4 linked regions of the Homo sapiens genome follow. The protein of the gene in region 3 interacts with the protein of the main gene of each other region in a biochemical or structural test. Each region holds a gene or a part of one and is shown on either strand. Other genes may lie near its edges.

Region 1 (3,500 bases), on a different chromosome or scaffold from region 3:
TAAGAGGAGGGAAATATATTTACATTTGCCTACAACAAGCAGAAAAATTGCTGTAGAAATTGATATCACAACAGGAGACACATGGTATACTATAATTCACAACTTTGGGCAGCTTGGGAATGACGATGTTTACATACCAATTAGGGACTCAAGAAATCCTATAAAGTTTTTCTTCAGGATCCTAGTATTCAAATTAGCATAAGGATCAGACATGGAATATAATCTCTGAGGTGAATGTTTCAAACAATGTTTGAAGCCCCCTGGGATCACACAATTAGGAGTTGTGCCTATCTCAATTACTTTCATACTGTTTCTTTACATGATCCAATGCTAATCAACAATTTACCTGGTTAAAATTTAGTTGGTTTGGTTATGCTCTGAAGAGGACACTCCCTTCTTATGTTTTCTGCACTCAGGCAGGAGACTTGTAAAGGAGCTAACAACAAAGGGATTTTTAACCTTCAAAGCCTTAATTAGAAAATAAGAGCAAATGGTACATTTTTAAAGAGGAACCAGGAATACATATTCTTGTGGGCTTTTGCCTCATTACATTTGTTAATAAGGAATGCCAAAACATGTGCACCAAAAAGCGTTCAAGGTCTTTTGGTAGTAAATTATACTTGTAAATTTGATGTAAGTTGATCACTTGAAGAACTCACACTCTTTGAAGATTAGAATTCATAAATGTATGAAAGAATTAAATGGTTCTTTCCTCTAGTGATATAAAGTATTAAATGACAGAAAAAAATGTGTTCGAAATCAACTGCGGAAATAATTCATTTTGAAAAGTATTCAATAAAAATGTTAAATGGGAAAAATATGCTAAGCCCGTTTCTGCTGGATGAAGAAGTAAAGCAGAAACATGAAAAGGGCAAATTTAAGGATGATGGGCTGGGAAATGTCCCATCAGCCTCACAGTTTTACTTTTTGTTATTCAACTATGGCAGTTCTAGGCCCAGTAATCTATTCCATCCCCATAAGACAAAGAAAAAAAGACTAATTCTGATCAGCAGAAAACTGGATGGCCTCTAGGAACCTTCAAGAGGGCAGTAGCTCCGGATCAAGGAGAAATGAATGCCTTTAAAGAGGCATCTTAGATTGTTTTGTTAATACATAAAATCCTCTCTCTTTATCATGCAGAAGTCTCATTTCAAAAGGAAAATGCAAGTCAATGAGGATTAGTTTGGCTCCTCAGAGGTCAGAACTAAATATACAAAAACTAATAATATGACACTGAAATAAACAAGAATGTGGAATTGCTCATCCGAAGGGATGATGTAACTAATATTGACATAATTTCCAAGCAGAAAAGCAAAACTAGGTCAAAGCACGATGGCCTAACATAATAAGCATTTTTGTTTCCAGATTTTTACCATGTAGGCTGTGTCTGCAGGCATTAATGTCTTCTGTTATCAATGTTCGGGGCTGTCACAAACAATTCATGTCTTATCACTCTTTGTTAGTTAAACCAAAACAATGTAGTTTATATGTGAACCATTCAATTCTGACAGCTGAAATGTTAGAAAGCGGAGAAATATTCAGAAAGTGTCTCTTCCAGACTGAGAAGCATCAAGCAATAAATATTCATTATCTAATAGTCTATCATGTTTTTATCTACTCAGAAAGTCATACCCCTCTCAATTAATTATTATGACTGTTTTCCCTCTTTTAGTCAGAGCCGTACAAAAAGGGCAGCAACAATCTCATTAGGATTTCACTTTAAACATTGACCACTGAAAAGGAACTCAAGTGAATCACTCACCAAATAGCCAATTTTTCTCTACCGCTTTCCCCATCATATGTTGACTAAAAGAAGTCACGCTTTCTTCTCTCGTCTATTTGTTCCATTTTACCTTCCTGCACTATTTCCTCAAAGCACAGCTGATTAATTCATGGGCTAAATGACTCATCTCATTCCCTAAACTTTCTTTTATATAAATATAATCCTCCTAGTTTTTGCTGTCTGACATTTTCATACTTAACTAAAATCAGAGCAAAGAATATACACATAAAAGAAGCACAAAACCCAAATATAAGATCATTTAACTATTTGGATTTTTTGGACAGTATTTTCCACTAAAGATGATGTAGTCTTTCCTGAGTTGCCTCATTATAAACCAACATTCCATTCAAATTGCCTTGGAATTTATTAGCATATTGAATTATAGCACATGACCTGAAAACATCCAAATTATATCTTAGTAGAAGGCATGTGGTACAGTCACAAAAGAGAATGAGATGGGGAGTCTAGAAGACTTAGCTTCTAGGTGTAGAACCTAAGTCTCCCTCATACCTTGCTCCCAGATGGAGGGTAAAGTGTTTCTTGTGCTAAAACGTCAACCCAGAAATGCTAAACTTTAACCAGTATTCTTAGTCTGGATTCCTAATGTATTTCGTACAGAAGACTTGATCCTATGTAAGTAAATAAATCTCTATTAATAATATTTGGTGGTGCCGTCCATCTATATATTGCTTTATTTGGCCATTCATCTACTTATTATTAACTCAGCAGGGCATTCAATGAATTCCATTTTCCCAGTAACATCCCCCTTCCTCCGAATTGTTTGGGGAAGACCACTTCTAAATACACACAACCAAAGCAACACTCCAAAACTTGACATAGGACAGATACCACAGTCTACCGCATAGACCCTTTGGTAATATATTAGTCCTGTTGTTTCCATAAACTATTAAATGTCCCTGAAATTTCTATTTTGTCATTTTTAACTATAACTTCTGGTCTGTTACACCTACCAGCAATGAAAATGCTTTGTCCGGCACAAATCTTGAACTTCACTATGAAAAATGTGGCCACCATCTACATGGAGAAGGCTTCAGTCTTCTCTCAGACACGCTATCTCAGTTCTGGAGTAACCTTGGGCATGCCACTCACCTGCAAAATTAAACAACTGCACATGGACCTAAGGCCTAAACTATCAGGCTGGGTTCAATGAGAGAAAGCAGCAGATTCTATCTTGGCGATTAGGCTTTGAGCTATTGGAGGGCATGACCCATTTCGTAATCATTTCTGCAGAACAATCAAACAGAGGATAAGCCAAGCTGCTTACCATGTTTTGGGTTGTGTTCTTGCCCAGAACACAACTGAAAGGAATATATATATATATATATATATATATATATATATATAGAGAGAGAGAGAGAGAGAGAGAGAGAGAGAGAGAGACAGACAGACAGACAGACAGACAGAGAGAGACTATGTGTATATAAATGGACTATATATATATAAAACCATATACATATAGTTCAGTAATCATAACCTATGCTAATTTTCTCTACTACTGATCTATTTAGTCCTTGCTGTTTCCCGGACCTTTCTAATGCCCTTTCTTCTTCATATCCCTTCGGATTTTAAGGAGCATTTTCCATTCTCTTTTTTACTAAAATTCACCCAGCATGTGCCTGTAGAACACTTAATGATTCTTATTGTGTGCCAGACACTGGGCTTGGGTCTGGGGATTCAAAGGTAATTAATATGTGAC
Region 2 (3,500 bases), on a different chromosome or scaffold from region 3:
GCCATCTTCTGCTCTAATGAATACTTCTATCACCTGAAATAAAAAATGTCTTGGTTCACTGAATAATTATTAAATATTTTTAAATATTTAGACAAGAAATTAGTCAAAATTACAAGTTGAAGTATTATTTTGAAACAGCCGCTCTTCCTTTTACTGTCTTTGTAAATAATTATAGTTCAAACTATGAATTATATAAAATGGTTTACATTGTGATGTATTTCAAAATTTTTTAATGAAAATACATGTTTTGTACATTGAGGTTGAAAAACATTACTCTTAAAATTTCATATAAAAATCTCTAAACATTTAATCTATGCCACTATAAAAATTAGTTTTGACTATCTTATGAGAGTTAAGATAAACTCATATGCTAAGTCAGTATCAAGAAATAGCTACCAGCCTGTAATCCCAGCACTCTGGGGGGCCGTGGCGGGCAGATCACGAGGTCAGGAGATCGAGACCATCCTGGCTAACACGGTGAAACCCCGTCTCTACTAAAAATACAAAAAATTAGCCGGGTGTGGTGGCGGCCGCCTGTAGTCCCAGCTACTCGGCAGGCTGAGGCAGGAGAATGGCGTGAACCCAGGAGGTGGAGCTTGCTGTGAGCTGAGATGGCGCCACTGCACTCCAGCCTGGGCGACAGAGCAAGACTCCATCTCAAAAAAAAAAAAGAACTAGCTACCAAATCAATGCTTTAACTCTATGCCTCTCTGTAACACATGAAAGAGAACTTTTTATTTTTTTTCTGACATTTTCAATGGTATTTAATTTTCATAAAATAAAAAAAGGCTGCTATACAAGATTAGCTAGTGACATGTGTGCTACTTTTTTTAAGCCTTCTCAGCTCATAAAAATCACAGTATTCTAAAAACTTTTATTAGATAGAGAGGAATCAAAGCTTTTACCCAAAATAGATCTTTCATACAATATTAAAAGAATTTACATAGGTCTTAAGATTCTATTTCTTTTCTACTCCACAAATAGAGATTAACTATGTAAATAAAAACAGAATAAATGTTCTTAGATGTTAACTTGAACTAAATGACTAACAACAGGAAGTTGGTCTCATCTACAATATCCCCATTAGTATCATATTTTTAAAAATACCTTATAAAAATGATAAAGAGGCACATCAAATATTTCAGTAATAAATGGAAAATTCCCAGGAGGCTTATAAGAAAAAGTGACGACCTCAAGGCAGCAGGCCAAGAGAGATCTGTGGAACGCATCTTGTTCCAGAATACCCTATAAAATAAAGTTATTAGCATTAGAAACATTTACTTAGTCTAAAAAGTCATTTCATACCCAGTGAACTTAAGTGAAAATACCAAAGAAAGTCTCATTTTCTGAGTGAGTGCAAAGTGTGTCCTTATTTTCTTACAAAACCTTTCTTAATTATATAAATAAAGCCCATTTTTTAGTAGAGGAAATATATAAAAGGAATGTATGAGAATTTTAAAACCTTACCTATTATAAAATGTATCTTAAAAGAGATTACATCTCTAACCAAAATACACACACACACTGATGCTTAGAAGAACAATGACAGGGAAAGATGTTTCAAAACAGTATTTACAGTAAGTGCTATAAAAAACTGAAAGGGGGACCGGGCGCAGTGGCTCACGCCTGTAATCCCAGCACTTTGGGAGGCCAAGGTGGGCAGATCACCTGACGTCAGGAGTTTGAGACCAGCCTGACCAACATGGTGAAACCCCATCTCTACTAAAAATAGAAAATTAGCCAGGTGTGGTGGCACACACCTGTAGTCCCAGCTACTCAGAGGCTGAGGCAGGAGAAGCAATTGAACCCAGGAGGTAGAGGTTGCAGTAAGCCGACGTTGCACCACTGCACTCCAGCCTGAGCAACAAGAGCGAAACTCTGGCTCAAAAAAAAAAAAAAAAAAAAAAAAGGAAAAAAAAATATTGAAAGGGGCCAGGCAGGTGGCTCATACCTGTAATTCCAGCACTTTGGAAGGCCGAAGCAGGCAGATCACCTGAGGTCCAGAGTTTGAGACCAGCCCAGGCAACACTGTTCAAGAATCACTTGAATCTGGGAGGCAGAGGTTGCAGTGAGCCGAGATTGCACCACTGCACTCTAGCCTGGGCAAGAGAGTGAGACTCTGTCTCAACAACAAACCCAAAAAAACAGAAAGGCAGGCAGGCAGGTGACTGGCTAGATGACCATGTACCAAAAGTGAATATGTTTATCATAGGATGACATTAATCATAGATGATTTTTATTTTGTTCTTTTTGCTTATAATTTTCCAACATTGTCAATAATTATTATTTTTTAATTAAAAGCTACTGAAGCACCAAAGGCACAGGCAACAGGCCAGGTGCGGTGGCTCACGCCTGTAATCCTAGCACTTTGGGAGGCCAAGGCATGCGGACCACCTGACGTCTGGAGTTCAAGACCAGCCTGGCCAACATGGCAAAACCCCATCTCTACGAAAAATACAAAAATGAGCTGGGCATGGTGGCACATGCCTATAATCCCAGCTATTTGGGAGACTGAGGCAGGAGAATTGCTTGAACCCAGGAGGCGGAGGTTGCATTGAGCCGAGATCGTGCCACTACACTCCAGCCTTGGCGACAGCGCAAGACTCCATCTCAAATAGGTAAATACATACATACATACATACATAAAACAAAAGCACAGGCAACTAGTGAAAAAATATATTGGATTTCATCAAAATTAAAAACTTTTGTGTATGAAAGGAGACTATATATAAAGTAAAAAAAACAACCCACAGAATAGGGCAGGAAGGAAATTATGTTTCATTGCGCTGATCAATACATTGGTTATTTTACTCACAGATAAATCCATGTCTCCTAGTCTTTTTTGTTCCTGCTCAATAACAGATTCTAATACTTTATAGTAAAGCATCTCCGCAAAACGAAAATGTTTGCTGGCAATTTCTGTAGAAATAATAAAAAAAAAAACCCCACAAAAATGGCACACAAAGAAAATAAAGGCCCATTCCTCCTCCTTTACTCACAAAATAAAATTCAAAACCAACCCAATACTTTAGATATGCACACTTCTTATGATTGGTGTTTTAATTATCCCTAAGATACCTTAATTTTCTTCATGGTAACAGTCACATTTTTCTAAAATTATTAAATGAAATTTGCACATAAGGAACTGTAATATCATTTAAGACTAACACCCTTTTTTTTCCTCTATGTTTGAACAAAACAGACCAATGCTAAGAGGTATGTAATTGGCTTACTAGTCCACACCTACTTAGTTCCAATTCCTGACAGCAAACAATTCCTAGGCCAGGTTTGGGCCCATAACAGTGATATCTCCTGTCCTTATTCTCAATATGTTGAAGAATCACTACACTTCTATTTAATTTCCAGTTTACAAAAAAAACCTAAAGATTTGCAGATAAAAAAGCATCAGAAGTCCAATATAATAAAGATACCATTCTAAAATTTCTATCTTACTGAGAAGGGCTCAGAAATCAGTTGGTTGACCAGAAAAATTGGACAGC
Region 3 (3,500 bases):
ATTGACAAACTTCTATTTAAGAAATACCGACTACAACCAACAAATGTTTAATATGCAGCAAATGAAAAAATCATGTCTAGGATACTCAACCCAAGACATGAGCACATCATGTACAAATTCATTGTAAACTTACAAAATAAGTTTCAAAATTTCTGCAAGCCCTCACTATACAAACTCAGAATCCTCTTTATTTTTGAGACAGGGTCTGGCTCTGTCACCCAGACTGGAGTACAGTGGCACAATCTCAGCCCACTGCAACCTCCATCTCCTGGGCTCAGGCGATCCTCTCACCTCAGCCTCCCAAGTAGCTGGGACTATGGTATGCCACCAAGCCCGGCTGATTTTCATATTTTTTGTAGAGATGGGGTTTTGCCATGTTGGCCAGGCTGCTCTTCAACTCCTGACCTCAAGGGATCCACCCACCCTGGTCTCCCAAAGTGCTGGGATTACAGGCATGAGCCACTGTGCCAGGCCTGTTCTTAGGGAAAGCTTTTTAGGTTTATTAATGAAAATCCTAATGTTACTAATTGAGACATCAGTTAACACCCAACTTAGTGATTCCCATCCAACCATAATTATGTATTTTTCAAGAAAATACATAATTTACTAACACATTTTCCTTACCATAGCCATTTTCAAAAGAAGGTAGGGTACTAACACTTTCCAGTTTAGATGGCCAAAGCCCGGTCAGTCTCTATAATTAAACAATTATTTTAAACCCTAGTTATGCTAAAACCAAGCTATTCTTATCACAAGTCCCATTCTGCTAACCACAAAATTTAGAGAATTTGTACCTGGAAGATACCACCACGTGTCAATTACAATATACGTATTCCTTGGTCAATTCTGATATCACAGGACCGGAAAAAATAGCTGCTTGGTGTCTAGATTGTTTGGGTATTAAAACCACTGCACATGGATAAGCTATTTGTTCAGTCGGAGAGAAAGGGCATAGAGTGACAGAGCAACAAAAAGACACACAGAGAATGTATTTCTTGTGAAAGAAAAGAATGAAATGAAATGAAATGTAGAAACCCTAATGGCCTTTTGCTTTGGAAAATTAACTCCACAAGCCACTAAAAATACTATCAATTAGATCAGAAAAGACATTCGGTATGTATGTGTTCCTCAAGCATTTTAGAAAGGGGATATGCTATAACTTCCCTGTTGGTTCCAGATTCAACACAGCACAAAGCAAGAAAACTTTTATTTACTACACTCACAAGTATGATTAAGTGTTCCTGTTTACTCTGGTAGGTTAAAATATCAAATATTAGTTCCCACAGAAGAACTTTTTTTTAAACATCTAATCCTATTCGAAGGATAAAAGGGGAAAAACTCATTAAATGTTGAACACTGCCACTTTAAGTACCATTTTTGTCTTCGGGTGAATGTACATAAGACTAAATCATGATCCAACAATAGTTTTCTATTTGGTTTCACTAGTATCACTCAAAGAACTTGACACAGGCTAATGCTTTAACACTTTCTTATCTGAGACAAATTTAACTCTAAGAACATATGACTCAACAATGTACAAAGATTTAAGAATTTGCCAATCTGTCAATCATTTTAAAGAGTCCATATAATATACACATAGCAATATAATATTCATAACCAGAAACTGCACTAAGTAAACACATCATTTAGTTTAAGCTCTACCTGAAAACATGCTGTTTTATTAAAACAAAACCCAAAGACTTAAATCTCAAGTTATATGGTTTTACAATTAAGTCTTACTGAAGCAGCACAGATTTCCTTTCTTACAAACAAGTTAATATGCAGGAAGAACCCACAAAGTGCACACCAACAATGTGACAAATTGTAATATGTGAAATACAAATAAATCCTGAAGTTAATCTGAAGAATGTCAAGGAGTTACCAGAGAGGTTATGTAGTGCCCTTGATTTTTATTTTACCTACAAGTCTACAAATTCTAAAATTTACTCAATTGATTTAACTTTTTTAATAAACAGCACCAGTCTTGCCCATTGATACAATTAAAATTTGACCTTCTCAGTTCTTAGTTCACAAGTTTATTATGAAAAACACTGCAGTGCTCTTGTGCAGTCACATCGTCTTACAGGAAGGGGAAAAAACAGTTCTGTTCAAAACAACTCACCAGGTTCTGACAATAACAAAGAACAACATGGGGCTGAGATTTGAGTAGGGAATAAACTGAGTGCAGACAAATCATATAATTAAATTAAACGGTATCCCTGAAAATAAAAAGAACAATTTCAAAACTCACAAGTAGAAGGGAGGCCTTGGTAATTATTTTTAAAAATGTTCATTAAGCTCCAATGATTGTTTGCTGCTATCCTTATCTACAGTCATGCTGAGTAAAGCTATAGCTAAATGGAAGTTAAATTGTATTCACGAGGTGTTAATGTTTACATCTTATTATCTGCAGTCTCTCAGAGAAAGCAAAAGTAACTACAAATAGCGCTATGCCAGAAACTGGTTTCTTGACCAACAATGTCGCTTCAGCATGCAATGAACTGGTTCATTCTAAAGTGGTCACGGCTGTTGATGACAAGAGGCTTTGTATTTTTATATGGCACATCTTTTGGTCCATGTGAAAACAAGTTTTTTGAATGTTAACTATTTTCTGACACTTTGGAGTTACTGTTGCTCTTCCCATTTCCATTAGGTCGATATATGGTTCATGGCAATACTGTACAAGTTTAAAATTTCATTACAGGAAGTAGTCTGGGGTACGACGAGTAACATGTGGCTCGCCTCTACGAGGTGCTGGGTCAAACTGCAAGCTGAAAAACAAGACCGATTCATGGTTTATGTTCCACGACCTCCATGTAGTGACAATCAAGATCAAGAACATGAGTCTTCCAAACTTTACACTTCCTATTCAATTTTGGCTTGTCTTAATGTAACAGAACCTTAATGATAATGGTCTGTTAACTGTACTCCCCTTGAAAGAGTCAAGGCAACTTCAGCCACAGAGACTATGCTTTTATAAAAACATGGTTTTTACCTTGACTGAAATTTCAAACAAAACAAAACAAAACATGGTTGGCCGGGCGCAGTGGCTCACGCCTGTAATCCCAGCACTTTGGGAGGCTGAGGCGGGCGGATCACGAGGTCAGGAGATCAAGACCATCCTGGCTACCACGGTGAAACCCCATATCTACTAAAAAAATACAAAAAAATTAGCCGGGCGTGGTGGCAGACGCCTGTAATCCCAGCTACTCGGGAGGCTGAGGCAGGAGAATGGTGTGAACCCGGGAGGCAGAGCTTGCAGTCAGCCAAGATCGCACCACTGCACTCCAGCCTGGGTGACAGAGTGAGACTCCGTCTCAAAAAACAAACAAACAACAAAAAAACACAAAACATGGTTTTAAAAGTGAAAAACCTAGTAATTCATACGAAGATCTATATATAATAAGTTCCTGTTGGTGTGTTTCAATGTAGATCCATTAAAAAAAAAACAAAACTTAAAAATAAAAGTTGGAATCTGACATAGCATAATCCCTTAATAA
Region 4 (3,500 bases), on a different chromosome or scaffold from region 3:
GAGATTACAGGCGTGAGCCATCGCCCCCAGCCTCTGTCTTAACTTTTAAACACAGGCTTCTTTATAGCATTTCAAAGTTTTCCCTAAAAGTAAAATCTAATAAAAATTTAACAGATGCTTGCAACTGTGAGCTTCAGTAACATCCATTTCTGGGCTCTGCAAATAACTGTGAAATGCTAAGGGTCCCAAATTTATGAACAAGCTCGCCTTGTGGCTCTGAGGTCTCCTGTGGGACACCAACTCTCCTCTCCCTGATACTTGGGACTCTCCTCCCACCAATCCCTCCCTGCAGGGCTGCTGTGGTCGTGCTCCTGAGGGCTCAAGGTGGGCCCTGCTCAACCCCCTCCAATGCCAGCATGAGGATCCCCTTGTCCTCTGCAGAGGGAGGTGGTGGCATGTGGACCAGGGAGATCTTGTGTCTGCTCCTTGTCTTCCTGCCACAAGGCAGAGTGGGTGGGGGCAGGGCACTGGGCCAAAGGCACAGCATGAGCTCTGGGCCACCTCTGGATGCTGTGTGTGTCACCTGCTGTGTGTGCCCTGCACATCTCTGTGTTAGGCGTCCACACTCCAGCACCTCCTGGGAGGCGTTGTGGGATGCAGGACAGGCGTGTCTTTCAGAGACAACCTACCTGGATCCCAAACCTGGCTCTGTCACTTACTACTCATTGGCCTTCGGCAAGTTACTGTACTTCTCTGAGCCTCCGTTTCCTCATCTGCAAAGTGGGGCTGCTTATGCCTACATGGGAGGGTTGGAGAGTTCTAGACACCATGAGGGCACCCGTCATCCTGTCGGTGGAAGGCACCCACCAAACCTCCTGTGGGCTGATGGGCCGTTGTGGACAAATCAAGTGGCCAGAGAGTCAAACAAGGTGGGTAGCACGGAGCGGGGGTGCTGGTGACATGCAGAGTGGCGGGCAAGCGTGAGGGGCGCGTGCGGCCACAGCCTGAGCACGGGAGGAGGCCGAGGGAGTGGAGCAGCTGCACCCAGGTGTCGATTTAGTGGCGTCCTAGGAACGTCAGAAGCAGCAGGAGTCGGGAGGCCTGGAAGCTCAGTGGCAGTGCCCGCAGCCTGGGAGGCCTGGGAGGTCCCCAGGGAAGGAGCGAAGAAGCTCAAGACACAGACCTTTGAGTTGAGGGACCCGGCTGACGGGCTTCCCCCGCGGAGCAGCAGCAGGCTGCTTTTCAGAGGGCTCTGGAAGGTCAGCCTCTTTTGTGTCCTCTCCCAAAGAGGGGCCCCGGGCCTCTGGCCCCTCTCCAGGGGCCCCTGGAAATGCAGCCCTTCCCAAATGCTCCTCCGAGTGCGCCTGCTCCTTCTGCACGTTGGGTGTGATTTCCACGTGAAACGTGAACTCCAGGGGGGCATCCTGCCCTTTGGCCCGCCCTACACTGGGCCCGTCGGGCTCTGAGGCTGGGATCTCTGTGGAAACTTTGGAGAGGAAATCCACAGGGAGGGGGATGGCACCCTCCGCTGGGAAGCCTGGGATGCTGGTGGCTTCTCTGGCGGCTGTCTGGGGAGGCCGCCCATCTTGGGCTGGGGAGGCCTTGGAGGGAGGGGAGTCTTGGGGGGAGGACTCATCGACGTCGCGGTCTTCATCCACCTCCTCCTTGCTCCCCGGCCTCTCTTTGCCCCCTGCCCCCTTCAGCGGCGGCCCCTCCTGGTGCAGGTCTCCTAGAAGCTGGTGCTTGAGCAGCTCAGGGGCGTGGCGGCCGCCCTCTGTGTCCTCAGGTCCTGTCCCCGAAGGTTGGCGTGTGGCCTCTCTGGGGCCCTCAGGCAGGAGGGGAGCCCCAGGCATGCCGGACATGAGCTGGTGGCTCAGACCTGGGGGGCCTGGCTCTCGGAGGAAGCCTTCCTGGACCACCTTACCACTTTCAGGCTCTGTGTGGAGATACGCAGTGGTGGCGGGCTTCGGAAAGGCCGGACCCTTCTCGGCCCAGTCCCCGCCTTTTTGTCCCCACTCCAGGGAGGGCTCCTGAGGGCCTCCTGTTGGAGGAGGCGCTGGGCAAACGGGACGGTGCTGAGGAAGGCTCGCGGTCAGCGGGACGGGAGCTTCTGGCTCTTTCTCCCCGAGGCACGGCCCAGAGACCCCAGAGGCCTCTCCGCAGGGTCCAGGCTGGACGTGGGCGCTAATCTCATTGGCCAGGGGCCTTTCAGGCGCCTTCCTCTGCCGGCCCGGAACTCTCAACTCCTCTGGTTTGAAGAGGCAGCGATAGCAAAAGGTTAGCAAGGGCGCATTAATCGCTTAAGAGAGGGAGCATCATCCTGGACAAAATGACACTGAGAGGGCATCCCAGGCCCCCTAACAAAGAGATGGGAGCACAGCTCTGGGCTCGTCTCGTTGCCTTTGCTTGCTTGGAATGACAGCTCTCCTGGTCTAGCCGCCACCAGCTCGCTAGGTGGCTCTCCCCTCTCTGGGCCTCAGTTTCCTCATCTGTAAAGAGGGTTCTTGGACGTGGTGACCTCCGAGGGCCCTTCTGGTGTGGGTGTTATTCCTCTGCCTATGATGGGCTCTGGTTGGGCACAGAGCATGTCACACATCTGGAGCCGCCCTGGGCTTAATCTACTGGGAAAGCGGGAGGGCTACAGAAGCTTCTCCTGCTTTCTAGGGAATTTGAGCCTCCCAAAGATTCTAGCCTCTAGATGGTATCTGGTTTGGGTGTAGCGAGAATCCCCTTTCCTCTCCCTACCTCTCACTGTTCTCCTGCCCCCGCCCCCCACCCCTTTTTTTTGGTTTGAGACAGAGTCTCACTCTGTCGCCCAGGCTGGAGTACAGTGGCACGATCTCAGCTCACTGCAACCTCTGACTCCCTGGTTCAAGCGATTCTCCTGCCTCAGCCTCCCGAGTAACTGGGATTACAGGCACGTGCCACCACACCTGGCTAATTTTTGTATTTTTAGTAGAAACGGGGTTTCACCATGTTGGCCAGGATAGTCTTGATCTCCTGACCTCGTGATCTGCCCACCCCGGTCCCCAAAGTGCTGGGATTACAGGCATGAGTTTTTTTTTTCCTTTCTTTCTTTCTTTTTTTTTTTTTTTGAGACAGGGTCTCGTTCTGTCACCCAGGCTAGAGTGCAGTGGTGCAATCACAGCTCATTGCAACTTTAACTCCAGGGCTCAAACAACCCTCCCATCTCACCCTCCCAAGCAGCTGGGACCACAGATGCATGCCACCACGTCTGACTAAAATGTTATTTTTCATTTTTGTGGAGACGGGGTCTCCTTATGTTGCTCAGGCTGGTCTCGAACTCCTGGGCTCAAGCAATTCTCTTGCCTCTGGGATTACAGGGATGAGCCACCATACTTGACTTCTGCTCCCCTTTTTGGTAAATGAAACCAGTGAAACTAGTGCCCACAAACCCCGCCTCAAGCCCATTCTCTGACAGATTTGGAAAATCCAAAATGTGTGATCATCAAGAATGGAGTCTTTACTGAGAGACCTGCCATAAGACTCCTCGAAAAAGAAGCCCCATTCAGATCTATCCAGGTCACTGACCACAGACA

The links. Proteins that work in one complex are often made in the same cells at the same time.
Region 1: of the proteins of PPP2CA (region 3) and MID1, one has a biochemical effect on the other in vitro, tested with the Homo sapiens proteins (2 studies listed by BioGRID).
Region 2: the proteins of PPP2CA (region 3) and RBL2 form a complex in vitro, tested with the Homo sapiens proteins (2 studies listed by BioGRID and IntAct, with this or other methods).
Region 4: of the proteins of PPP2CA (region 3) and MAPT, one has a biochemical effect on the other in vitro, tested with the Homo sapiens proteins (2 studies listed by BioGRID).

The regions. Positions count from the first base shown.
Region 1 is NC_000023.11:10,610,586-10,614,085, forward strand, and holds part of MID1 (E3 ubiquitin-protein ligase Midline-1), read right to left. Parts: intron 1-3,500. UniProt on the Homo sapiens protein: Has E3 ubiquitin ligase activity towards IGBP1, promoting its monoubiquitination, which results in deprotection of the catalytic subunit of protein phosphatase PP2A, and its subsequent degradation by polyubiquitination.
Region 2 is NC_000016.10:53,461,971-53,465,470, reverse strand, and holds part of RBL2 (retinoblastoma-like protein 2), read right to left. Parts: intron 2,920-3,500; coding exon 2,816-2,919; intron 1,246-2,815; coding exon 1,108-1,245; intron 34-1,107; coding exon 1-33. UniProt on the Homo sapiens protein: Key regulator of entry into cell division. Directly involved in heterochromatin formation by maintaining overall chromatin structure and, in particular, that of constitutive heterochromatin by stabilizing histone methylation.
Region 3 is NC_000005.10:134,195,074-134,198,573, forward strand, and holds part of PPP2CA (serine/threonine-protein phosphatase 2A catalytic subunit alpha isoform), read right to left. Parts: intron 2,772-3,500; coding exon 2,699-2,771; 3' UTR 1-2,698. UniProt on the Homo sapiens protein: Catalytic subunit of protein phosphatase 2A (PP2A), a serine/threonine phosphatase involved in the regulation of a wide variety of enzymes, signal transduction pathways, and cellular events.
Region 4 is NC_000017.11:45,981,554-45,985,053, reverse strand, and holds part of MAPT (microtubule-associated protein tau), read right to left. Parts: intron 2,189-3,500; coding exon 1,124-2,188; intron 1-1,123. UniProt on the Homo sapiens protein: Promotes microtubule assembly and stability, and might be involved in the establishment and maintenance of neuronal polarity.